Homo sapiens: one gene and its partners. The protein of the gene in region 1 binds, or shares a complex with, the protein of each later gene. Each region holds a gene or a part of one and is shown on either strand. Other genes may lie near its edges. The genes, in order: TAF3, TAF13, TBP and TAF11.

Region 1 (6,627 bases):
TTTCTCTTTGCAGTTTCTTGAACTTCCTTTGGTTGGTGTCACAGCCAGCCACCCAGTAGAGACTGAGACCACCAGTTCATTTCACACAGGCCACTGAACAGTCATAAGATGGTGACAACTTTTGGTCTCTAGTGACCTGGACTGGATCCGACTCACTGACCTAGAGGTGAAAGGCTCTGTATTCCATTACTAATCCCTCGAGCTCTCCAGCCCCCTGAAAATGATTCTTTGGTTTTATTATTGCAAAGACCATTTATAAAATCATGAACTGGATTTAGGAAAGCAACCATGAAATAGCAAGGGACAACAAACTGATTGAAATTCCTTAAATGTAGCATGGGCTGAAGTCTCTCAGACAGTAAGATTGGGGGGAAAGTTATATATAGGCACCTCCATTCTGATTTCAGTAGCGTGACCTGCTCACTTAAACGTGGCAACTTCAGATCATGGACCACGCCTCAAGGAACTAAATCCTAAATAAAGAAAATGGAAAAGCAAACTATGAAATAGCCAATAATCTTTATTTTGCACTTCCCCCACCCCTCACCCCTCTCCAAAAACCACTAACGCGCATTTTTGTGCATGTGAAAATATTGTATAAAGTATTTAGAATGATCTCAAATTAATCAAACAAAAAAACACATATCTCAACATAGATGCTTTGTTTCTTAGCGGGGATAGAAAAATTCTGGCCTCTTGAACAACGAGGGCAATGACACCCTGTGCTCCGAAGAGGTCGACTCCATTTCCACTGATTTGCAACTTAACATTCATGGCAGAAAACCGCATTTCTCTAACCACATAATGTTTTAAAATATGACTAATTCATACACTAATATCAATTTACTTGGCATTTAAAAAAATCACATTTTCTAGTAATATATTTGTATTAGGTTCAAAGCCCATATTCTAGCATCCAACAGATCCAGCACATGGGCCTACACTGGGATTATTTCAAAATCAAGTAAAAGTCCGTATTTATCCCAAAGTTGCTAAAATATGCTAATAAAGTTAAATTTGATGTTTTTTTAACATTAAAAATAAAATATTTGGTTTACCTCTCAGACATCTATAACATATAATAAATAGTGGGCAGTATAATAATATAATAAAGTTTTGTGATACCCTGAAATTTGATGAGTTTTCTTAAAAAAATTCATAATATACTTCATTTCAGCCTTAAAGCACAATATTAATGAACAGATTTGTAGAAATAAAACAATATAAAGACAAAATGCTACAGTATATGTGGGTTTTTTGTTGTTTTTTTTTTTTACTTTCATGGAAACTACATGTCCTTTTAGTAAAAGTCTGTCAAAGAAATTTACAAAAACAAAATAGACAACAAACAAAACAACTTCAAGTCATAAACTCTAAATTTAAATTGCCTTGTTTTCCTTCCAACTGCTCGGGCCCTTTCCCCACCATGTTTCCGGGCACTGCGCAGGCTGAGCTCAAGGGAAATTTCTTTGAACGATGGCTTTTTCTCTAGCCTTGTTTCTGTCCAGCGTCATTACAGACCTGGCTGAAATCACAGTGGATTTCAGAGAAAGCCAGAATTAAACACGATAAAAATTTAAAAAATAACTACTTCATAAATATTTATTATTTACATTAGGGGCAATCTTTTAGTCTGAAGAGTTTTTATACAAGTTGATGAAATGTACAAGCAGTGAGAAGAGACTCCAGCAGTTTAAAGAAGGGCAAAATTAGAATGCAACGAAGATATAAAATACATTAAACAAAAATAATTTGCACAAAAGCAAACAGGACATGATAGAAACCTTTTTCTTAAAAAATATAAGGTATTTCACAAAAGCCTGAACATTTTACATGTTAGTACTAAAAACGGGGGAAGGAGGGAAGCTTCATATATTCTTATCACAAAAATATTTACCGGTACTCCAACTGGAGTTTTCTTTTATGTTATTCTGATTATCTTACTATAGAGGGAAAGGGGCTGAAAACTGTATACAGACTCTATCATCCTTAAATTACAGTTGAGGCAGTTTGTACATTATCTTCTCATCTAATACCTCAATGAAAAGGCCCTGGAGAGAATAAAGGAAATCAAAAGGGAAGATGTACGCTCTTTATTAATAATACTTGTCACTGGTATTAGAGAAGTGGAGGAGGGGCAGCCCCCAGGCCACGCCTCTGCTTGAGTTTCCTTCTGTCGCACTGCCACGGAGCCACAGGCCAAGGCGGCTCGGGAGTGAACAATCCAGGTGCGCGGTGTGTTCCAGCCTCAGTCCTCCTGGGTTCTTTATCCACAGGCATCTGGGGGTGGATGTGACGGCAGACTTGCACCAGCTCCCTTCCAGAGGCGCCAGGGAAGAAGCCCGGGCTGACCCCGCTTGGTCCAGCCCCTCGGGAGTCGTCAGTGGGCTCGATGCTTCCTCTTCTTGTGCTTTTTGTCCTTCTTCTTGTTCGCACACTTGGGGCAGAACCACTGCATCTCTTCTGGGGGTGCAGTCATGATTCCAACACAGGGCCTGCACGTGAAAACAAGCTCAGATAAGCAACTTTTATACAGACATCTATTCTTCTCCCTTCCATGTTTTAAAGTAATTTTTTAGAGTCTATGACATGTTTACCCGAAATCAAAGTCAAGCAGCACTAACTTGTGTGTAGCACTATTGTTGGGCATGCGGACTATGAGATCACAGATGCTCCCTTTACAGGCCCCCTGCAGAGACTCATCCGTTCATTCATCCTCTCAGCCAGGAATAGAAGTCTTCCGAGCCACGGCTTTGTCTTTATCTCACAGATATCGTCTATCATAACTGAACAGGTTGCTATCTTTTTTGTATCTGACATTTTAAAGATAACACGAGATTATCTGCATAAATTCTGGTTGAGCTTTTCAGTTTTTAGGAACCGCTGAAGAGGTCTAAAAAACAGATAAGCAGTCTTTAGTCCTGCAGTTTGTACCACCTTTACAAAGGCGCTGCCTCTTCGTGGTCCTGGCCAGTGCTACAGCTCCTACAGAACATTACTGGAAAGGAAGGCCAGGGAAGCCCCTGGATCTCCTTTTAGTATTATTATTTTTAATAAGAAGGATAGATAAGCTAAGCAGAATATTCAGAATTTAGGGTGAATAACAATAGTCTAAGCACTCTTGGGTTTTGCAGTTAATTGCACTTCACAGGCTCAGTGATTTGACTCCATGTACTGTCCCTAGGACAGCCCTGGGTCAGTCCAAAGGCAGGAATCTACTCAGTGGATGCTTCATCTCAGGAGCGGCTGATGCTGCCTAATGAGTGTGGCCGGCAGGGCGCCCTGGGCACTCACCAGTGGTACCAGTCATCGCAGTCGTCACACCCAATCATGGGACTCCCATCGTCAGGCTTGTTACACCCAGGGCAGATCCAGATCTGATTGCCCCACTCATCTCGGATCTGATGTTTGCAAAGCGGAAGCGGCAAAAATGGAGGGAATGGGAAAAAAAACAAAAAGAGGCCAGATCAGAATGATTACTTTATACTGTTAACCGAATAAACAGGCATATTAAACTAAAAAATATAGTAGATCAGCACTTCATTAATGCCATGATCAGCGTCATCACTGTTTTAGAATCAAGAAACAGAAAAACGCTAAGTGTTCAATGATAAGGCATTTCTAACGAATATTCTAAGCTTTCTTTTGTAAGTCATAAAAAGCATTTTATAATCATCTCTGTGAACAATATGACCTGTAACCCCTTTCATAAAAAAAAAAACTATAACTATGTAAATTCTTAATGATTTGGGTCTTTATAAGGGTGGTAACAACTGATTTTTTGAAAGTTATAGAGCTCCACTTTATATGTGGTTTTCTCAATCGCATTCATAGGCATGGAATTAATATAGACAGCCAAATGTGCATGCACCACCTTATTACTTATTAGCCAAGCCCTTCTCCTGAAGGAGCTGATAAGATCAAGGATATAAAAGAGTTGTTACTAAGTAACTTTCCATTCCCTTTATGACATTTTTAGTAAAGTACAATCAACTAAAGGGCAAATGAAATAAGGGGATAGGGAGGCCACAGAGCTACAAGGTTCAACATTATTTTGCTACAAATATTGTGTACTCTAGAGTTGACTTTATTTAACTTAGCAGTTCTAAAGAGGGAACATCCTATTCACCACTTCCTCAAACTTCACATGAACAGAGCCAACCTGGAAGAATTAATTCACTGATGGGCATTCAACACCAGCAATAAGAAAAAGGTAACTTCCAAAGTGTTTACAATAACAGAGCACATTATTGCATCCGGTTTATTTTGTAAGGGATAGTTCTTCCCAGACTTTCAAATACCACACTGACTAGACATGCTTTTAGAAAGGCTTTCTTTGTGTGTGACAGGTGCATTGGGGGTCCATATATGTTTCACTGTAGTGATGGGCTTCCTTTAAGGCAACTCTACAAAGGCAAACTACATTGACAGGAAAACTTCCTAAAGAAATCTGTGGGCAACTACATCTCTGACCCTCCGTAATTCCAGGAGAAAAAGTAACAAGGGGTGAGAACCAGCAGTCACCCGTACCTGCTGTCTAGAGGCCAAGGCTGGTGGAACATCCTATGCCCTGAAGCTCCCACGTGTGGCCAGTCCTGCTGCTGGCTGACCTTGCTTGAAGTCAGAAGGCCGTGACTCTGTGTGCCGCACAAGAACTTCACCACGGCATCCACAGCAACTAATACCAAATACCTCATAGCTTACTAAATTCTTCTAAACATCTCATTTCATTTAATCCCTGTAAAACAACCTCTGGGTAGCTTATGAATGGGGAAACCGGAGCTAAGGGAATTTAAGTGGCATTTCCAACATCACACCATTAGGCAGTGACAAAATTTGCCTTTTTGCTCTCTAGCCTTTGTATGTCATCTAAATCATAAATTTTGTCCTCTAACCACAAAGCGTCTCTCTTCATGAGGTAGAAAGCTTTTTTTAAATTTTCATTTTTATTTTAAAGACAGGGTTTCACTCTGTCACCCAGGCTGGAGTGCAGTGGTGTGATCATGGCTCACTGTAGCCTTGACCTCGGTAGGCTCAGGTGATCTTCCCAGCTCAGCCTCCTGAGTAGTTGAGACTACAGGCACATGTCACCCTGCCCAGCCAATTTTTGTATTTTCTGCAGAGATGGGGTCTCACTATGTTGCCCAGACTAGTCTCAACTCCTGGGCTCATGTGATACAGCTGCCTTGGCCTCCCAAAGTGCTGGGATTATAGGCGTGAGACACCATGCACAGCCAGTAAGCTTTCCATCTACATTGTCTATTCCAGTTGGACTCATCTCCAGGAAGTGAGTTAGCTCAAAGATCTACTGGAAAACCAGAACTTTTAGAGCTAGAACATGCCACAGAGATTACCAAGTTTAACACAAACTCCTTAATTACAGATGAAGACACGAAGGTCAAGGAGGTTAAGTACAAAATCTTTCCTGATCAACCCATTTGGGGGTGATGTTGCCTCTAATTAAACACCTACAATGATTGGTCCCCGAATGGACCAATTTGATGATCACACTTTTAGAAGTTCCTTCCAAAACTCCTTTAAGGAAATTTAATAATAGGCCAGGCGTGGTTGCTCATGCCTGTAATCCCAGCACTTTGGGAGGCCAAGGTGGAAGGACTGCTTGAGCCCAGGAGTTTGAGACCAGCCTGGGCAACACAGAGAGACATCATCTCCACAAAAACCAAAAACAAACAAACAAAAACAGCCAAGAAACAGCCAGTTGTGGTGGCAGACGCCTGTGGTCCCAGCTACTCGGGAGGCTGAGGTGAGGGGATCACTGGGGCCCAGGAGGTCGAGGCTGCAGTGAGTGGTATTGTGCCACTGCATTCCAGTATGGACAAGAAGAGTGAGACTACCTCAAAAGAAAAAAAGAAAACATAAAAAAAAGAAATGTAATATTGTACAGTTTATAACAACAAATACCATGAGTCCTACCCAGCCACTTTCCAATCATATTAGTACCTAGCTAGTTACAAGGTCAGGGCCACCAGTAGGCTAACACATCACAGTCTGCAGAGTTGGTAGTCACAGCAATGGCAATGGCTCCACACACCTTAAATATTTCGTTGTGTGTTTGTGTGTTTAATTCTATAGTATCCAAAGAACGTAATCTGTATAAACACTTTACTGCCAGAGTGTATTCAGGGAGTAAGAAACTAAAAAACAGTCCCAGAACAATGTGGACTCAGTGGACATGGTGGGATTTACAATTTTTTTTTTTCTTGAGATGGAGTTTCGCTCTTGTCCCTCAGGCTAGAGAGCAGTGGTACGATCTTGGCTCACTGCAAGCTCTGCCTCCCGTTCAAGCAATTCTTGTGCCTGAGCCTCCCGAGTAGCTGGGATTACAGGCACGTGCCACCATGCCCAGCTAATTTTGTTTGTATTTTTAGTAGAGATGGGGTTTCACCATGTTGGCCAGGCTGGTCTCGAACTCCTGACCTCAAGTGATCCATCTGCCTCAGCCTCCCAAAGTGCTGGGATTACAGGCGTAAGCCACTGCGTCCAGCTGGTTTTACAATTTGAAATCATGCTTGGATACTCAGGAGTTCTGTGGTCTCAAAGTTCATTTCCATTTAATATGCAAGCCCTGGCATATTCTGGATCATAGCCAATAAAATATAATTAGTG
Region 2 (7,059 bases), on another chromosome or scaffold:
AATAACTTCTGCAAACAAGCACTCAAATGGATAGCTTATTTCAAAGGGATGCCATAAGTTCTAGTCTTACCTAAAGTTTAATATTTCAAATCTATTCTTCAATTAACTAAGACCAGTTAGGAAAGAATCTTACCATTTCAGTGATAAACTCTATGACAAGATCTTCAAGAATATCCACTGACTCAGTATAAGGATTCTGGTCATCCCCAAAGCCATACATCATACATCGCACTGTAAAAGAACAATCACTTACTTTTGTTTACTTTTACAGATTTAACAATTTGATACTTTAAAAAAATAAAGTAGAAATGAACCAAGTTATAGATAATATTGGTATGAAAACATATTTACATCGTATTTGTTATCTCCAAGTATGGATTCTTGTGTAAAAGGTTTAAGAACAGTCTGATGACCAACTGTTCCCACGTAGCCTCCAGCAAAACTCTTCCTTCCTCCCACCTACTGAACCCTAAGGTAAACAGTCTTTTCCTAATCTCTAGCATCTACTTACCAGTCCCTGCCCCCAGCAGAACACCTTTAAGTAGGAAACTCTGGCAAAGGACAGGACAGACAGCAACAGCTTAGCCTTTTTTGGAGGTGGTTTTTGTGTGTGGGCATGGCAGTGGGGCGTTGGAAAAACGGCAGACTCTTTACTGATATTACCATAGGGGAAAAGACATGAGAGACAGTTCTCCAAATACTTTTTTTGTTTGTTTGTTTGTTTGTTTTTCTTGAGACAGAGTCTCGCTCTGTCGCCCAAGCTGGAGTGCAGTGGCACCATCTTGGCTCACTGCAAGCTCCATCGCCTCCTGGGTTCACACCATTCTCCTGCCTCAGCCTCCCGAGTAGCTGGGACTACAGGCACCCACCACCACGCCCGGCTAATTTTTTGTATTTTTAGTAGAGAAGGGGTTTCACTGTGTTAGCCAGGATGGTCTCGATGATCTGACCTGGTGATCTGCGTGCCTCAGCCTCCCAAAGTGCTGGGATTACAGGCGTGAGCCACCGCGCCCAGCCCCAAATCTGTTCTTATAGGAAGAAACAGGGTACTCAAAATGAGAAAGCAGAGGGCTTACTACAAGGAATTTTGACATTTCCTAGATCAATACAACTGCAGCAAAGCCCTTTCAGGCTTCATCTGAAGAAACCATAGGAAATGCAAAGGATAAGTCTAGGTCGGGTGCAGTGGCCCACGCCTGTAAACCCAGCACTTTGGGAGGCCCAGGCAAGTAGACTGCTTGAGCTCAGGAGTTTGAGACAAGCCTGGGCAACATGGCGAAACCCTGTCTCTACATAAAAAACAAAAATTAGCTGGGCGTAGGCCTGGATGGTGGCTCACGCCTGTAATCCCAGCACTTCAGGAGGCTGAGGCAGATCACTTGAGGCCAGAAGTTTGAGATCAGCCTGGCCAACAAGGTGAAAACCTGTTTCTACTAAAAAAAAAAAAAAAACACAAAAGTCAGCTGGGGGTGTTGGCACATGCCTATAATCCCAGCTACTCGGGAGGCTGAGGCATGAGAATCGCTTGAATCCAGGAGGCAGAGGTTGCAGTGAGCTGAGAATGCGCCACTGCACTCCAGCCTGGGTGACAGAGGGAGGCTGTGTCTCAAAAATAATAATAATAATAAGAGAGACTGTGTCTCAAAAATAATAAGAGAGAAGTCTAATACAGACAAATAAAAATAACTGCCAAAAGATAAAACATATATAGCCCTTATTATATGCCAGGTACTGTCTTAAGTCCTTTACATATATAACTCATTTAATCCTCACAATGATCCTTTAAGGTAGAAACTATTGATTATCCCCATTCTATAGATGAGAAAATTAAAGCACTGCAGTAACTGATTTACCCAAGGTCACAAAGCTAGTAAGAGATGGAACCTGAGTTTGAACCCAGCTGATCTGGTTCGCGTCTTTACTCATACCCACAACAGCATCGCACTTGTTGGTAGTTGTAGTTTAGGGCAGACAGGATCCGTGTGAATTCTTTTTTTTGCTCTCCTTTTTTGAGACAGTCTTGGCTCTGTCGCCCAGGCTGGAGTGGTGTTGCAGTACAGCTTGCTGCAGCCTCAACCTCCCTGGCTCACGTGAGCAGCTGAGACTACAGACACATGCCACTATGCCTGGCTAATATGTGGGGTTTTTTTTGAAACAGAAGTGTCACTGTGTCACCCAGGGTGGAGTGCAATGGCACGATCTCAACTCACTGCAACCTCCACCTCCCGGATTCAAGAGATTCTCAAACTTTAGCCTCCAAGTAGCTGGGATTACAGCCATGCGCTACCACACCCAGCTAATTTTTTTGTATTTTTTAGTAGAGTCAGGGTTTTGCCACGTTGCCCAGATAGTCTTGAATTCCTGGCCTCAAGTGATCTGCCTGCCTTGGCCTCCCAAATTATTGGGATTACAGGCCTAAGCTACCACACCCAGCCATTTAAAATTTTTTCTAGAGACAGGGGTCTTGCTATGTTGCCTAGGCAGTTTTTGAACTGGTTTCTAACTATTTATTTATTTTTATTTTTTCGTAGAGACAGGGTCCCACCTTGTTGCCCAGGCTGGTCTTGAACTCCTGGACTCAAGTAATCCTCCTGCCTTGGCCTCCCAAAGTGCTAGGATTACAGGTGTGAGCCACCACACCCAGCTGAGATCCACAGAGGTTCTTATCCTATCGCCTATAAACTCCCAGTCCAGAGACAAGCTTTAAGAAGTCCTTGAAGGCCAGCGCGGTGGTTCACGCCTATAATTCCAGCACTTTGGGAGGCCAAGGTGGGCGGATCACCTGAGGTCGGGAGTTTGAGACCAGCCTGACCAACATGGTGAAACCCCGTCTCTACTAAAAATACAAAAATTAGGGGGGCGTGGTGGCACGCACCTGTAATCCCAGCTATTTGGGAGGCTGAGGCAGGAGAATAGCTTGAACCCAGGAGGCAGAGGTTGCGGAGAGCTGAGATCATGCCAATGCATTCCAACCTGGGCGAAAGAGGGAGACTCTGCCTCAAAAAATAAAAAAAGAAGTCCTTGAGACTACCCTGAAATCATACGGAAAAATTTTATACATTATCTGTACATGGGCATTTTTCTGGGAATAATTATAACTTTTATCAGATTATCAAAGGGGTATATGTAAATGGTAAGAAATGCTGTCAAATGCTGGAAGTGTTCTGTATCTTGATCTTAGTAGTGATTACAAGTGTGTGAGTGTGTGTGTGTGTGTGTGCGCACATGTATACAGTTGTCCCTTAGTATCCTTGGGAGCTTGGTTCCAGGACCTCCCGTGGATACCAAAATCTGCAGATGCTCAAATCCCAGATATAAAATGGCATAGTATTTGCATATAAGCTAAATACATCCTATGTATATTTTAAATCATCTCTAGGTTACTTACAATACCTAATACAATGTAAATGCTATGTAAATAGTTGTTATACTATACTGTTTAGGGAATAGTGACAAGGAAAAAAGTCTATACATATTCAATAGAGGCACAGTTTTTTTTTCTGAATATTTTCCATCTGAGGTTGGTTGAATCCATGGATGCAGAACCCATGACATAGAGAGCCGACTGTATAGCATACATAAAATTCAGCAAGCTGTTCACTTAAGACTTGCACAATTTATTGTACCTAAGTTTTTTTTTTTAAAAAAGATACTCATAGAATACTTCTAAAGGAAGAAATGAGTAAATTAAGAATAATTCCTCTATTTAGAAGAAGTAAAAACTAGTAGAAGTACAAAGAGAAGAAAGTAGACCAGGCCTACAGAAGAAAAGGGTGACTTGGAAACCAGCCTGAGATAGACATATCCCTAGGGTTTTACACTGGCAAGAGTCTTTAGGTCCAGAAACAGGAGTAAAAAAACAAACACAGGAGCCAATAGTTCCTATCGTTCTGTTTTGGATTCTGTACTTTTTTTTGCCTTTTTAAAAAAAAGATAATTTTAGATTTACAGCTGAGTTGCAAAAATAGTACAGGGTTCCCATATGCCCTATATCCAGCTTCCCCTTATGTTAACATGTTATACAACCATAGGGAGTCATCAAAGCTAAGAAATTAACATCGGTACAGGTACAGACTTCATTCAGATTTTACAAGTTTTTCCACCAATGTCCTTTTTCTGTTTCAGGTTCCCATACTATTTAGTTGTCATGCCTCCTTAGTTCCCTCGAATCCGATAGTTCCTTGACTTTTTCATCTTTCAAAACCTTGACGCTTTCTTTTTTTATTTTTATTTTTTGAGACGGAGTCTCTCTCTGTCACCAGGCTGGAGTTCAGTGGTGTGATCTCGGCTCACTGCAACCTCTGCCTCCCGGGTTCAAGCGATTCTCCTGCCTCTGCCTCTCAAGTAGCTGGGACTACAGGTGCAGGCCACCACGCCCAGCTAATTTTTCTATTTTTAGTAGAGATGGGTTTTCAACATGTTGGCCAGGCTGGTCTGGATCTGCTGACCTCATGATCCGCCCATCTCAGCCTCCCAAAGTGCTGGGATTATAGGCATGAGCCACCGTGCCCGGCCCTTGAGTAGTGGAATTATAGGCATGCACCACCACGCCGAGCTAATTTTTGTATTTTTATTAGAGACGGGGTTTCGCCATGTTGGCCAGGCTGGTCTTGAACTCCTGACCTCAAGTGATCCTCCCACCTTGGCCTCCCAAAGTGCTGGGATTACAGGCATGAGCCACCGTACCCAGTCCCCCCCAAATTTTTTTTTTAAAGGTTCAGGAGAATAGATCTTTCGTCAGTAACTTCTATGAATATTCAGGTAAGATAAGGAGAAGCCTGAAGATTACAAATTCCTGTCATCACAAAGTAATCTCAGTGGAACAAAGGTCTTTGCTAACAACCGACTGAACATCACTCTGGGATGCTCTGGTACAAGGATCCCCTTCTTATGCTGACCTAATAAGTAAAAACCACATAATGGTATAAGGAGCATCAGAGAAATGAAATAAGAAATGGTCAGCATTAGTGAGGAAACAAAATATGGAAAAGGATTTGGATGTTTAAAAAATAAAACAGTGTCTGGCGGCTCATGCCTGTAATCCTAGCACTTTGGGAGGCTGAGGCAGGAGGATCACTTAAGCCTAGGAGTTTGAGACCAGTCTGGCCAACATGGTGAAACTTGTCTTTACTGAAAATACAAAAATTAGTTGGGTGTGGCCAGGCACGGTGGCTCACGCCTGTAATTCCAGCACTTTGGGAGGCCGAGTGGGGTGGATCACCTGAGGTCAGGAGTTCAACACCAGCCTGGCTAACATGGTGAAACCCGTTTCTACTAAAAATACAAAAAATTAGCCGGGCATGGTGGCACACACCTGTAATCCCAGCTACTTGGGAGGCTGAGGCAGGAGAATTGCTTAAACCTGGGAGGTGGAGGTTGCAGTGAGCCGAGATCACGCCACTGCACTCCAGCCTGGGTGACAGAGCAAGGCTCCATCTCAGGAAAAAAAAAAAAAAAAATTAGCTGGGCATGGTGGCATGCACCTATAGTCCCAGCTATTCAGGAGGCTGAGGTGGGAGGATCACTTGACACCAAGAGTTAAAGGTTGCAGTGAGCTATGATCATGCCACTGTACTCCAGCCCCAGTGACAGAAGAGTGAGACCCTGTCTCTAAGAAAATAAATAAAAATTAAGAAAATAATTTTTCTTAAAAAAGATACACTGACGCTGAAGCTGGGCACGGTGGTTCATGCTTGTAATCCCAGCACTTTGGGAGGCTGAGACGGCGGATCATGAGGTCAAGAGATCAAGACCATCCTGGCCAACATGATGAAACCCTGTCTCTACTAACAATACCAAAATTAGCTAGGCGTCGTGGCATGTGCCTGTAGTCCCAGCTACTCAGGAGGCTGAAGCAGGAGAGTCGCTTGAGCCCAGGAGGCAGAGGCTGCAGTGAGCCAAGATTGCGCCATTACACTCCAGACTGACAACAGTGAGACTCTGTCTCAAAAAGAAAATATATATATATATATATACACACATATATATATATATATATATATATATATATATACACACACATATATATATATATATATATATACACACACATATATATATATATATATATATATACACACACATATATATATATATATATATATATATATATATACACACATATATATATATATATATATATATACTGACCCTGTAGTTTCAAGGGCATTTGGGAACTGCTCACATATAACCCAGCCTAAATAAATCATATTCATAAATCTGTGCGGCCTCATCTCTCAATACTTAGACATAACTTTACATAAAGGACCCAGGACTGGGAGATGGAGAGCACATTTTCATGCTGTGTTCCAGGGCTTGGCCTGGATCATCAGTATTAGTAGCAGCTCTCCCTTCCTCGTGTTGCCAAAAAGGGTCAAAACCGTCTACTGAGGGGGTAGGATGGAGAATCAATACATTATAATCTCCATGTTATTGTTTATTTTATTTGTTTATTTATTTTGGACACAGGGTCTGGTTTCGTCACCAAGGCTGGAGTGCAGTGGTGCAATCTGGGCTCACTGCAACCTCCACCTCCTGGGCTCAAGCCATCCTCTCACCTCAGCCTCCAGAGTAGCTGGAACTACAGGGGCATGCCACCATGCCCTGCTAATTTTTGTATTTTTTGTAGAGAGAGGGTTTCACTATGTTGCCCAGGCTGGTCTTGACCTCCTGGGCTCAAGCAGTCCGCCTGCCTTGACCTCCCGAAGTGCTGGGATTACAGGCGTGAGCCACTGCATCTAGCCTCCATGTCACTATAATGCCTTACACGATTCACCACCTTTTTTTTTTTTTTTTTTAAGACAGAGTCTTGCTGTGTCACCCAGGCTAGAGTGCAGTGGCGCAATCTTGGCTCACTGAAACTTCTGCCACCTGGGTTCAAGCGAGCACGTCTGGTTAATTTTTGTATTTTTAGTAGAGACGGGGTTTCATCATGTTGGCCAGGCTGGTCTCGAACTCCTGACCTCCAGTGATCCACCCGCCTCAGTCTCCCAAAGTGCTGGGATTACAGACGTGAGCCACTGCACCCAGCTGTTCACCACCTTCTTACTTTGTTCAGGG
Region 3 (7,059 bases), on another chromosome or scaffold:
TCTACCTCAGTGCGTTATATGTATTAAATGGAATAATCTATATAAAATGCTCAACATGTGCATGATACTTGTTAAACAATAAATGTGAGCAATTAAAAAAAAGTAAAGCCTGGTTGAAATAATCAGATGTCTGCATAATTTCTAACGCCTCATCCAATGAAACTTAAGTAATTTAAATAGTCGTGTTTTCTTTTTAAATCTCTTACAGAAATATTGTATCCACAGTGAATCTTGGTTGTAAACTTGACCTAAAGACCATTGCACTTCGTGCCCGAAACGCCGAATATAATCCCAAGGTTAGATCTATTTTAATGTATTTCTTTTTTTTTTCTTTTTTGTCTCCTCTGCCGTGTCTCTATATTTTAATGTATTTCACGCTATAAAACAAATGTCTGTAGATCAGGCCAGGCACAGTGGCTAATGCCTGTAATCCCAGCACTTTGGGAGGCTGAGGAAGGAGAATTTCTTGAACCTAGGAGTTCACCACCAGCCCAGGCAACATGGCAAGACCCTGTCTCTTAAAAAAAAAAAAAAAATTGGCCGGGCTTGGTGGCTCACACGTGTAATCCCAGCACTTTGGGAGGCCGAGGTGGGCGGATCATCTGAGGTCAGGAGTTCAAGACCATCCTGGCCAACATAGTGAAACCCCGTCTCTACTAAAAATACAAAAATTTGCCGGGAGTGGTGGCATGCGCCTGTAATCCCGGCTACTTGGGAGGCTGAGGCAGGAGAATCACTTGATCCTGGGAGGCAGAGGTTGCAGTGAGCGGAGATTGCGCCATTGCATTCCAGCCTGGCAACAGAGCGAGACTCCGCCTCAAAAAAAAAATCTGTATATCAAAGAGTTTGTGTTATGCTTATTCCTTGACACCAATAAAATGAAGATCTAAAGTAAAATGTGCATTGTTTTGTATCTTTTATTGAGTGTCTGTGATATAAGAATCCCTGGGAGTACAGCAGTCTATAAAATAAGCTAAGTTATATATGTATTGTATTGGGATCATGTGAAGAATTTTGTATATGTATAGGGATGATGTTAGCCAGCTATAGTAGGCAAAGTAATTTGGATAAACATTAGCTGGGTTGAGAGAAATGTTAAGTAATGGACTTAGGGTGCATTTTAAAATCCCTGAAACATAATGCCTGAGATCTGAAAGACAGCTAAGGGTCTGAAAATCACCTTTTAACCACTCATAATGAGTCTGTATGACATGTAGCATTCTAAGAATTAATCTTTCATCTATTATAATCACATTTAGTTGAATACATAATTTTATTACTTTACGTTCTTAAGTGATATTTAACCAATAAAAATAGTAGAGGAAATTCTGGAAATTCAAAATAGCTAGGCTTTTCCTGGGACGTATATAAACTACTATATACTGCTAGCTTTTTTAGATGTTGATAAAATCACAGGGAAGACATAGAGCAGGTTTTAAACTAAAATTGTTAAAAGCCAGGCATGGTGACTCAGACCTGTAATTCCAGCACTTTGGGAGGCCAAGGTGGGAGGATCACTTGAGGCCAACAGTTCAAGACGAGCCTGGGCAACATAGCAAGGCCTTGTTTCATCAGAAAATTTAAAAAATTATCTGGGGTTGGTGGCACACACCTATAATCCCAGCTACTTGGGAGGCCAAGACAGAAGGATCTCTTGAGCTCAGGAATTCGAGGCTGCAGTGAGCCATGATTGCACCACTGCACTCCAGTCTGGGCAACAAAGTGAGACTCTTGTCTCTAAAAAAAAAAATTAATAAAATAAAAAAATAAAATTGTTAAAGCAATCTAGTTTGTCAAAGAGTCGTCTTAATTAGAAACATGTAGGTTTTTATTGTATAATTAAATGTATTAAAATATTTAAGTTGTTTCAAAGTAATTATTTGCTTTTTATCATGTACCTAATAACTGAGGCCATTAATTCAACCCACAGTTGAAATATTTTCCCCTTGAGTTACCACCTTAGCAAGAAAATTTTCTGAAAGAATTAACATGTTTCAAGCATAAAAAGCAGAAAATAAAAGTTAAAACTGTGTTTTTTTCCTAATTTGCATTTATGTGTTTAATACATTAATATTGTTTCTAAAGACCAATTGAAAGCATGATTTTACTTCATTACGTATTGATAGGCTTGTAATCTGATTTATTAATTCCATTAAGGTAGAAAAGGTTTATTGGTTTATTTGCCTCAAAATTCATATTAATAAAACAAAATGTATCAGAGAAGCTATAGTCATGATAAGCAGCAAATATAAAGTAGAAACAGAAGCACTTGTATTTATTGAGAACATAACCAAATTTTGCAAACATTTCTCTTGATGGAATGCTCATGTGAAAGAACATACAGATTTGGTATAACTTAGTCACAATTGATTATTTTCTGCTCCTTATGCAAAGGAATATTTGTTACATGTGGTGTATGCAAATCCTTTACAGATATACAGAAATACAGAACAAATATTTTGATAACTAGATGTACTATGTCCTTCCTACCAGTTGTGATTTTTTTGTCAATGGGTGGTTCGCCTAACAACATTGAGCAGTTTGGCATGACCTCACTAATGATTCTCTCTGACCATTGTAGCGGTTTGCTGCGGTAATCATGAGGATAAGAGAGCCACGAACCACGGCACTGATTTTCAGTTCTGGGAAAATGGTGTGCACAGGAGCCAAGAGGTAGCCGTAAGAAATTCATTCTTCTGGTCTATGGGTTATGAATGAAAAGGTGATATCTCATTGTTTTTAGGTTATTAGGTTAGCACTTTAACATGTTATTATTGCTTTCTTATAAAAACCATTTTAATATGATTCTATTAATTATTTTTATTTATTTATTTATTATTTGATTCTATTAATGTTAGATAGCAGTGATTTCATTTTCTTAAAAATTAGATATGGGCAGGCGTGGTGTCTCACCAAGGCGGGCAAATCACTTGAGGCCAGGAGTTCGAGACCAGCCTGACCAACATGGTGAAACTCCATCTCTACTAAAAATACAAAAATTAGCCAGGCGTGGTAGTGGATGTCTGTAGTCCCAGCTACTTGGGAGGCTGAAGCACGAGAATCGCTTAAATCCGGGAGGTGGAGGTTGCAGTGAGCTGAGATCATGCTACTGTACTCCAGCATGGGAGACAGAACAAGACACTTTCTCCAGAAAAAAGAAAAAAATTAGGTAAGATGTAATACAACATCAGAACTATTAATAAAATTCCCTTTATGTGAAAAATGTTGTAAATAACACAAATACATCTTGAAATGGAAGAAAAAATTGATCAAGAATTAAAACACTTCTAAGCTAATGGTGTAAGGGCTTTGCAGACCTTATTGGGCCTGGCAGCGTGACAGCATCACATGTGTTGGCTGCAGAAACCTGCCTTCTCACTGGAACTAGCTTTCATTAATAGTGTTTGAGTTGTGCAGATCTTAAGGAATGCACCCTTGTTATAAAATGTCATTGCCTATATTCTCCATCTGAAGTGATCCTGTCTGAAGGTTAGTACTCTGCGGCCCTGACTGTTCTAAACAGAGCTTATATACTTGGTAGAAGTCAAAAACTAGGGGGAAAATTAGTGACATTAGCTTCATAAATGAACTGAACAAATAAACTAAAACTTTTTAAATGAAAGAGTATTAAATGTACTTGGAGGTATCAACACATAGAAGGGGGCTGTGGATATTTTTGCTTATTCTGAAGTTTGAAATTGTCTTTCAGTGATGGGAATGCCATTGGTGTGGACATTCTGGCTCCTGATCTCCGAGGTTTTTCAGAATGCAGGACAAGGATGTGTTCTTGCCTTTCACTTCCCCTTGGCCACAACATGCAGTAGTAACCTCTTTAATTAAGAGCGTTTTTGTTTGCTTGTTTTCCCCTGCATGGAACATCAGAAACTTTTGGTTTATCAAGGCAAGCTTTTCATGCAGCATTTAGCCTTTTTGTCCCAGAGCATCTGAAAACTGAATATTGTATATGTAGTTGGATGACTATTTCATCAAGACAAGAAACCACCAATACATTTACCTGAAATTTAAAAGCGTAGCATATATATATATGCTTGATTTTTGTTCTTCCTGATCCCCTGCACCTGATAGTCTCTTTATGGTAATATTTTCACATTCTTTTTTGTTGTTGTTGTTGTTTTTGAGATGGAGTCTCGCTCTGCGCCCAGGCTGGAGTGCAGTGGCATGATCTCGGCTCACTGCAAGCTCCGCCTCCTGGGTTCACGCCATTCTCTTGCCTCAGCCTCCCGAGTAGCAGAGACTACAGGTGCCCACCACCATGCCTGGCTAATTTTTGTATTTTTAGTAGAGATGGGGTTTCACTGTGTTAGCCAGGATGGTCTCAATCTCCTGACCTCATGATCCGCCTGCCTCAGCCTCCCAAAGTGTTGGGATTACAGGTGTGAGCCACCGTGCCCGACCTGCCTGCCTGCCTTTTTCTCTTTTATTTTTTCTTTTTTTCTCTTCTTTCTTTCTTTCCTTTTCTTTTTTTTTTTTTTTTTTTTTTTTTTTGGTGGAGTCACCTAGGCTGGAGTGCAGTGGCACAATCTTGGCTCACTGCAACCTCCACCTCCCAGGTTCAAGTGATTCTCCTGCCTCAGCCTCCCAAGTAGCTGGGATTGCAGGTGCCTGGCACCATGCCCAGCTAATTTTTGTATTTTTAGTAGAGATAGGGTTTCACCATGTTGACCAAGCTGGTCTCGAACTCTTGACCTCAGGTGAGCTATCCGCCTTGGCCTCCCAAAGTGCTTGGGATTAGAGGCGTGAGCCACCATGCCTGGCCCACATTCTGCTTTTCTTATGTAAGCTCTGAACTGCTAAGTCGTAGTTTATTCAACAAATGACATAGGAATGTCTATTCATGATGAGTCTTGGTATAAAAGAGGATAGAATTAGTGAATACATTGTTCAATAATAAATCTCATCAACATTTTCTGATCAAAATGAAGTTTGTTAGTTTTCCTCTCAGTAGAAATGCATGGGCTAAAATACAGAAATAGTGATGACTGATGATGGTGATAATTCACATCCATAAAATCTAGGGCTACAATAATTTGGCGGATTGAAAGGTCATTTTGGCAGGCCTACAGTTTTCTGTCAAGGATCCAGGAATACTTTATAAGGAATTGTGAATGCCTGTCAGTCTTTTCTCCTATTGCAAGAAGGCTGACCAGTTTACACTTTATTAGTTTACTGTTTTGGACTTTTTATAAGTTATTAGTCTAAATAAGTATTTTAGCTGGCTCTGAGTATGAATAACTCACTTTTTTCCTTTCCCTAGTGAAGAACAGTCCAGACTGGCAGCAAGAAAATATGCTAGAGTTGTACAGAAGTTGGGTTTTCCAGCTAAGTTCTTGGACTTCAAGATTCAGAATATGGTGGGGAGCTGTGATGTGAAGTTTCCTATAAGGTTAGAAGGCCTTGTGCTCACCCACCAACAATTTAGTAGGTAAGTCTGAAATGTATTATGATTGTTATTGGCAACAGTTCATTTATAATCTAAACATTGTTCAGAATAAAACACATGCAAAATATTCAGTATATGAGAACAGTTGACATGGTTATAGTTGTATGTATTCTTGCATTGTCTTCCTGATGTTCTCAGTCATATTTATCACCCTCACCAGCCTCTGCTTCCCTTATCACTTTGCGGTACCCATAACTCCCCTTTACTGGAATGAATTTGATTCTACTTCTGTATGTTTTATCGTTTTATTGCTGAATACACTTGGAATGCATGAATTGACCCTAACCTTGTATCAATTTTTTTTCCCAGTTTGGATCTTCTCTTTTAGTCAACATTGTGTCAGATCTACCAGCAAAGTGTGAAGTTGAGCGATAGGAACAACTTTCTAATTATCTTCCCTGCTACTTGCAGGTGAAGACTCACAGGCAGGCAGCCCTGCCCACCTCACTGCTTCATCTCATGGTCTTCTGGTGTCTGTTCACAGGCACATTAGTTCTGTGTGCCCCTGGGGCTCACTTGGTTCCTCCTGCCCTAGGCCTTTGCACTTGCCACTTTTATGCCTAGTATGCTCATTTCCCTTTTCACCTAGGAAGCTCCCACTTGAGTTCCATATGTCTACCCATTCCACTCTTCCTCAGAGAAGCCTGTCCTGAATTTTGTCTTAGGTCAGACACACAGAAACAGAGGCATCCTGTTTTCAGTCTCTCCGAACTGAGAAAAATGAGATTACTAGGCTTAGAAGAATATGTACCAGGCCTGGCCTGGTGGCTCACACCTGTAATCCCAGCATTTTGGGAGGCCGAGGCAGGCAGATCAGTTGAGTTCAGGAGTTCAAGACCAGCCTGGCCAACATGGTGAAACCTCGTCTTTACTAAAAATACAAAAATTAGCTGGACATGGTGGTGCATGCCTGTAATCCCAGTTACATGGGAGGCTGAGGCAGGACAATCATTCGAACCCAGGAGATGGAGGTTGCAGTGAGCCAAGATCGTGCCACTGTACTCCAGCCTGGGCGACACAGCAAGACTCCGTCTCAAAAAAAAAAAGAATATATACCAATAGTCCATTCAGTCAGACAGCTTAATCAGGTATAGGTTAATTCTCAGGCTAGTATATAAGTTTGATTAAATTTCCTGACCACAATTGTCAGCTAGAGAATATTTCAATTTAAGGAGGTAAGATATGATTAAAAGTTAAACTGTCAGTATTGGATCTTAGAAGTAAATGATTATTAGGACTGTAATAGTAATTATTAGGACTGTAAAAGTAAAGGATTATTATCTGCATTAGATATCATTATATCTAATGATATAGAGACTGCAGACATAACTACAGGGCTCTTTTTCTTAAATCAGAAAATCCAGATTCAATAGAAATAGGGTAAAGTGATAGGAGGACAAATAGCCTTCCATCCAGTGGTTATCAACTGACGACTACAAGTCGGCCTCACTTGCTTTAATTATTCTATTCTATCCTTTGATGCTGCTTGAAGAACTGTGTTTTACCTCTTGACTAGTTTGTTTATTCAGTATTTTTCCTTGTACAGGTCCTCATTTTATCTAAAAGCACACAAAGCTCTTGATTTCTAAACTTTTTGC
Region 4 (7,000 bases), on another chromosome or scaffold:
AGTTCACGACCAGCCTGGGCAACAAAGCAAGACCCCATCTCCATAAAAAATAAAAATAAGTTAGCTGGGCACAGTAGTGTGTGCCTGTAGTCCTAGCTACTCAGGAGACTGAGGTGGGAGGGTCACTTAAGCCCAGGAGTTCAAGGCTGCAGTCATGCCGCTGCACTCCAGCCTAGGTGATAGAGCAAGACCCTATCTCAAACAAAACGAAACCAAAACAAAACAAAACTCTCTTGGAAAGGTTTTCTCTCTGAAAGCAGTTCCCCTGTCCAGAAGATGCTTATGGCCCACGTATCTTCTTCCAACTGGTCAAGACAGTTAAATACTTCAAAATGCCCCAAGAGGTCCCAAAATTTAGTCAAGGCAAGTATCAATCAGGCTACATACTTTCTAGGTGTGACAAATATCAGAGTTTTGAGAAAGACATTAAAATCATCATGGAATCCTTGGAGGCCTGAGATACTAAAGCACCAATGCAGACAGTCTTATAGGAAGTCTGGAACCAATACTTCTTCCGTCAGTAACATAGGCCTTTCTAGACTTTGGTCTAGAAGAAGATGATTTTTTTGTGCTTCGAGTTAGGGATCTGTCCTTTTGACTTTAACCTTCTAACGGCTTCCCTCATATGTTTGGGTTGTAGTGGTGGCATTTCTCCCCACTTCTCACACACATCCAGTGCTAAACAGAGGGTAAGGAGAAAGTCTGATTATCACACAATAATTTACTAATCACATAATCCTTTTGAGTCCTGTAATTCTTGTTAACTTTTCTTAAGCTTGCTAAGGAAATAAACAGACATTTTTCCTTTTTAAGAGAATATTAGTATAACGTCTCATAACAGGCTTTATCATAGACAACAGTTTAAAATATATTTCCTATAGGCCATATGCTGTGGCTCATGCCTATAATCCCAGCAGTTAGGGAGGCCAAGGTGGGAGGATTGCTTGAGCCTAGGAGTTCGAGACCAACCTGGGCAACATGGCCAAACCTTGTCTCTACAAAAAATTAAAAAGTTAGCCAGGGGTGGTGGTGCGCACCTGTGGTCTCAACTACTCAGACTGAGGCAGGAGAATCACCCGAGCCCAGGAGCTAACTGTTACAGTGAGCTGTGATCGCATGATCAAGGCACTCCAGCCTGGGTGACAGAGTGAGACCCTGTCTCAAATAACTACATAAAAATAAAATTAAAAATTAGCCAGGTATGGTAGTGCACGCCTACAGTCCCAGCTACTTGGGAGGCTGAGGCAAGAGGATCCTTTGAGCCCAGGAGTTTGAGGTTGTAGTGAGCTATGATCACACCACTGTTACCATCTCATTTTGTATACCATCTTAATTTGTGATTTGTAAAAGGAAAAATAAAAAATATTAAAAAAAATAATAAAGATCATGCCACTGCACTCCAGCCTGGGTGACAGAGTGAGACCCTGTCTCAAAAAATAATAATAATTTAAAAGTATATATCTCCTGCTCAAAAAAAAAAAAAAAATTTCACCAGCTAGAGTAGCAATGGGAAACAGCCAGGCTTTTTACTCAATAAAGGGGTCAGGCAGTTCCTAGGGATCACAACATTAGGGACAACTCACCATCCCACACAGGTCACCCCTGTGATTGCTTTTCTTGTATCTTTACTTTTGGCAGCAGAAATGAGCAAAGTCCACTGCAGAAAATACAAAGTCTACTTCTTTCACCCTGGGCTGAGGAAAGGAATCAGGGAGGGGATTTCCCAGATGGTTCCTTACCATCTGTTATTGAAACTTGCAAGGAATAACAGTCATGTTCTCCTAAATAAAGGGCTCCCCACTTGGTCAACTTCAAGTGCAAATGAGAACTCCCATAGGTGCTTTAATAAGCTCCTTTGTGTAGATATTCTTAAAAATAAGACCACCACAGGTACAATCCAGTATTTGTAACCAACACTACTCACCTTCTTCTACCACCTCCCCGACGAAAACCTTGGAAATACCAGACATAGCAATAACAACATTCTGAGACACAGAGGTGCCAGTGATGGACTGGATCAGCTTGAAAGAAGCACAAAGACTCCGTGATCACAATAGTCAAAGACTGGCTTTGGAACACAGTACCAAGTAATTCACAGAAAAAGGTAAGATAACTGAAGTGCATTTTTTTTCCCACCTAAATAATCCCCTGACTTGTCTAACACCTCACTTCAAATGCCAATGGACATGGCTCTTGAGTTCAGTTCTAAAACGTGATGGAGATGAAGTGTGGTGGTCCATCCTTACCCTTTTGATGGCTGCCTTAGGGAAAGCTGAGCGGCGATACATTTCATAACGGTTCAGCTGCTCCTCAGAAAAAGAAGAAACCAGGATTCTAAACAAAGATCCAGGTAACTAAGTTAACTTATAAGAACGAATACTCAAGATATTATGAAGTCAATAAAAGTTTCAGACAATTCAAAAACGAATTCTTAAAGGGGTCAATGGCATTAGGCTTGGTGCCTTGAGGAATGAAGATAAAACACTTCTACTCCAAAGGAATTTGAGAAAACGTAAAACAAAAACTTCTTTTCTTACCTGTTAACAAAAAGAACAACACTGGGTCACTGTATCGTACTACACAGACTGTTTGCAGCATTAGACACTATCTCCATAACTCTATCTTATTGAATTTCACACTGATGGTAAAAATTTAATATACAAATTTATAATCAAACCAGTAGTTTTCAACATTAACAGATTTAGGGGAAATATCTGCAAAATATGTGGAAACAGTTAATACTCCTAATGTATAATTCTTTCAAATGAATAAAGGGGCCATGTCAATTTTTGAAAATGAACAAAGTACATGAACAGGAAATTTACCAAAATACCAATGGTCAATCAACATGGGGGAAACAACCTTCATTATTAACTAAGGAAATATTATTTTCATAGATAACATTTTTCATAAATCAGACCACTATTAAAAAAAGAATGGTATTAGAATATGGGACACAAACACATGCTGGCAGAGTGAACTGGAACACCTTTTTGGAGAGAAATTTGGAAATACATATGAAAAGCCTTTGAAAATGTTCATACTATTTGAATTAGCAATTACACCTCTAGGAGTTTATCTTAGGAAGTAATGGACAAGTATGCAAAGATATGTCCAAAGATCCTCATCATAATGTCAAAAGTAAAAATACCCAACCAGAAGCACTATAGGGATTGGTTAAATTATAGTTCAACAACATAATGGGATACAATGTAGCCATTAAAAATTATGATTTATGAGCATATTTACTGACATGAAAATATTTAGCTATACATATCAAACATCTAAAAAAACTTTGAAAAGGTACATACCCAAACATTATACCCAACTATATACTTAGAGTGAACTCTGCGTGGTGAGTTTATGGGTGATTTTTTTCTATTTTTCTGTATTCTCTGAATTATTTGCAATGAGCCCATACTACTTTTACAATCAGAAAATGTAATAAAGCTATTTCTATTTTTAAGAAAACTATGACCTAGATGTATAATTAGTGACATGGAAAACATTCACCATATCTAATGTGAAAAATAGGCTACAAAACAGTATTTGACATTTGTGGAAAAAAAAATTTATAGATATATATGTATAGAAACTATCTTGAAACTTATAAGCAGGATATATCTCTGTGGTAAGGTAATTATTTTTTCTTCTTATCTATTTATTTTTTTTGAGACAGCATCTGGCTCTATCGCCCAGGCTGGAGTGCAGTGGCGCAGTCTTGGCTCACTGCAACCTCTGCCTCCTGGGTTCAAGTAATTCTCCTACCTCAGCCTCCCGAGTAGCTGGGACTACAGGCACCCACCACGACACCTGGCTAATTTTTTGTAATTTTAGTAGAGACGGGGTTTCACCATGTTGGCCAGGCTGGTCTCAAACTCCTGACCTCAAGTGATCCACCCGCCTCAGCCTCCCAAAGTGCTGGGATTACAGGTGTGAGCCACCGATCTCGGCCTTCTTTTTATCTATTTATATTTTCTATGCTGTAACATAATTATTTGAAAAAATTGTTTTTGGCCAGGCACAGTGGCTCACACCTGTAATCCCAGCATTTTGGGAGGCTGAGGCGGGCGGATCACGAAGTCAGGAGTTCGAGACCCGCCTGGCCAACATGGCAAAAACCTGTATCTACTAAAAATACAAAAATTAGCCAGGCATGGTGGCAGGAGCCTGTAGTCCCAGCTACCTGGGAGGCTGAGGCAGGAGAATCGCTCGAAACCAGAAGGCGGAGGTTGCAGTGAGCAGAGATTGCACCACCGCACTCCAGCCTGAGCAACGAGAGCGAAACTCTGTCTCAAAAAAAAAAAATTTTAAATAGAGGCCGGGCACAGTGGCTCATGCCTGTAATCCTAGCACTTTGGGAGGCCGAGGCGGGCAGATCACGTGAGGTCATGAGTTCAAGACCAGCCTGGCCAACATAGTGAAACCCTGTCTCTACTAAAAATACAAAAATTAGCTGGGCATGGCGGTGCATGCCTGTAGTCCCAGCTACTCGGGAGGCTGAGGCATGAGAATCGTTTGAACTCAGGATGTGGAGGCTGCAGTGAGCCGAGATCACACCATTGCACTCCAGCCTGGGCGACACAGTGAGACTCTATCTCAAAAAAATAAAAAATAAAAAAAAAAACATAACATAACATAACATTAGAGAAAGGGTTTCACTATGTTGCCCAGGCTGGTCTCAAACTTAGGCCTCAAGAAATCCTCCCACCTTGGCCTTCTAAAGTGTTGGGATTACAGGCGTGAGCCACCATGCCCAGCCATAATGTATTAATCGTTTTATTTTCTTTTGAGTTTATAAAAGAAAATTTAAACACCAAGAAAAATTTATTAAATTTGTGTGGTCAAGTGAGAGCCTCGAAATGGGGAATGATAAGAAAGTGACTTACTGCATCTTCTGAATCTCATCTTCATCTACTTTCTGCTTTTTCTCTTTCTTTTCTTTGGTATCTATTTTCAGTTTTTTGGCTGCAGGATTAAGTAATGATGAGTCTTCCCTTTCAACTGTTGTTAAATCTGAGACATCCTGACTCTCGAGCTGGGAAGATGAAAGAAACTCTATTATATATTTGGCCTACTTTCCAGGCTTGGGCAAAGTAAGAAGACATCATCCTTATCACAAAACAACAAATCCATTTATTGAGTAGTTTTTCAGTTCTAGGCACTGACTGTACCATCAAGGATAAGATACAGTATCTCTCCTAAGGGAAGATTATGGCTCAGCTATGGAAAGAAAACCTGCTAAATAATCTAGTTTTCCAGTTTGGCTATGAGCACAGCTCCAGTATCTGTTTACAAGGGTAATGAAATGCCATGGATCATGAAAATCACCCTCCCCCGGGCCCACTCTTCTGACCTTATTTTTCAGAGGGGATGTCAGCAAAGTCCCCTCCATCCAGCCAGCTCTTCTGCTTCCAGATCTATAGATCTCTTTACTGCTGATGATTCCACATGGAAAGAATATTAAAAAGGAGGCCCCTTCTCATCAAAACAGTGTTTATTTCAATTTGGGACTTTCAAGTGAGCTTCTCACACGTAGTGCTCTTTTGTTCTTATTCTTCAATCCTACTGTTTCATGCAAATGTTTATTTCACATTACTAGTCTTTTTGAAGATAGGTTTGTCTCTTATTATTTATATCTCCCCCCCATCAGCATTTAATGCAATTTTACTTATGCTGGATGTTTAATAAATGCCTGTTCAAACCCCACTTAAAAGTAGGCAAAGACACTTCTCAAAACAAGACATACCTGTGGCCAACAATCATGTGAAAAAAAGGTCAGCTTCACTGATTAGAGAAATGCAAATCAAAACCATAATGAGATACCATCTCATATCAGTCAGAATGGCTATTATTCAAAAGTCAAAAAATAACAGATACTGGCAAGGTTGTGGAGGCAAAGGAAAGCTTTTAAACTCTTGGTTGGAGTATAAATCAGTTCACCATTGAGGAAGGCAGTGTGACAATTCCTCAAAGACCTAAAGACAGAATTACCATTTGACCCAGCAATCCCATTACTGGGTATATACCCAAAGGAATATAAATTGTTCTATTATAAAGACACATCCACACTTATGTTCATTGCAGTGCTATTCACAATAGCAAAGACATGGAATCAACCTAAATGCCCATCAATGGTAGACTGGATAAAGAAAATGTATTTTCCAGTATACACCATGAAATACTATACAGCCATAAAAAAGGAGATCATGTCCTTTGCAGGGACATGGATGGAGCTGGAGACCATTATCTTTAGCAAACTAATGTAGGAACAGAAAACCAAATACTGCATGTTCTCACTAATAAGTGGGAACTAAATGATGACAGCACACGGACACATAGAGGGGAACACACACTGGGGTATATGGAAGGGTGAAGGGTATATGGAAGGATGAAGGGTGGCAGGAGGGAAAGGATCAGGAAAAATAACTAAGGGACACTAGGCTTAATACCTGGGTGATGAAATAATCTATACAACAAACCCCTATGACACACATTTACTTATGTAACAAAACCTGCACATCCTGCACATGTACCCCTGAACTTAAAAAACTGGCTGTTTAATAATAAAAATCAAATCCAAACTTCACCCCCTCTGACTTAATGTAGAATCTTAAGTATACTACAAAACTCATTAATGAGATTTAACTTGTCCCTAAAGAGGAATTCAAATTTAAACTCATACAGGAATATGGGAATAGGTGGGATGAAGGTAGTCTATCTTTGACAATCTTTTCAATTTCTTTTTAGTTACTGATTTATACAAGTTTTCTAACTGTGCTTCAAGTTTGGTGGTTTGTATTTTCCTTTAAAAAATCACCTATTTTTCTCAGATTTTCACATTTATTTGGCCTAAACTTGAACATTAAATGTCTTTATAACTTTAAAGATCTCCATATTAGTGCCTATAGCCTTTCATATTTTGTAATGTTATACATTTACATTTTAAATAATGTTTTAATTTTATCATTTATGTTTTTTAATGTGCTAATTCATTAGT

What was found.
Region 2: TAF3 (region 1) and TAF13 share a complex: the UniProt entries of both Homo sapiens proteins name them as parts of the TFIID basal transcription factor complex.
Region 3: TAF3 (region 1) and TBP share a complex: the UniProt entries of both Homo sapiens proteins name them as parts of the TFIID basal transcription factor complex.
Region 4: TAF3 (region 1) and TAF11 share a complex: the UniProt entries of both Homo sapiens proteins name them as parts of the TFIID basal transcription factor complex.

The regions. Positions count from the first base shown.
Region 1 is NC_000010.11:8,010,505-8,017,131, reverse strand, and holds the end of TAF3 (transcription initiation factor TFIID subunit 3), read right to left. Parts: intron 3,402-6,627; coding exon 3,295-3,401; intron 2,496-3,294; coding exon 2,381-2,495; 3' UTR 501-2,380; downstream 1-500. UniProt on the Homo sapiens protein: The TFIID basal transcription factor complex plays a major role in the initiation of RNA polymerase II (Pol II)-dependent transcription.
Region 2 is NC_000001.11:109,066,002-109,073,060, forward strand, and holds part of TAF13 (transcription initiation factor TFIID subunit 13), read right to left. Parts: intron 232-7,059; coding exon 134-231; intron 1-133. UniProt on the Homo sapiens protein: The TFIID basal transcription factor complex plays a major role in the initiation of RNA polymerase II (Pol II)-dependent transcription.
Region 3 is NC_000006.12:170,564,337-170,571,395, forward strand, and holds part of TBP (TATA-box-binding protein), read left to right. Parts: intron 1-208; coding exon 209-296; intron 297-2,581; coding exon 2,582-2,673; intron 2,674-5,275; coding exon 5,276-5,443; intron 5,444-7,059. UniProt on the Homo sapiens protein: The TFIID basal transcription factor complex plays a major role in the initiation of RNA polymerase II (Pol II)-dependent transcription.
Region 4 is NC_000006.12:34,878,043-34,885,042, forward strand, and holds part of TAF11 (transcription initiation factor TFIID subunit 11), read right to left. Parts: exon of another isoform or gene 5,396-7,000; coding exon of another isoform or gene 5,357-5,395; intron 5,039-5,356; coding exon 4,890-5,038; intron 2,335-4,889; coding exon 2,247-2,334; intron 2,022-2,246; coding exon 1,925-2,021; intron 679-1,924; coding exon 548-678; 3' UTR 1-547. UniProt on the Homo sapiens protein: The TFIID basal transcription factor complex plays a major role in the initiation of RNA polymerase II (Pol II)-dependent transcription.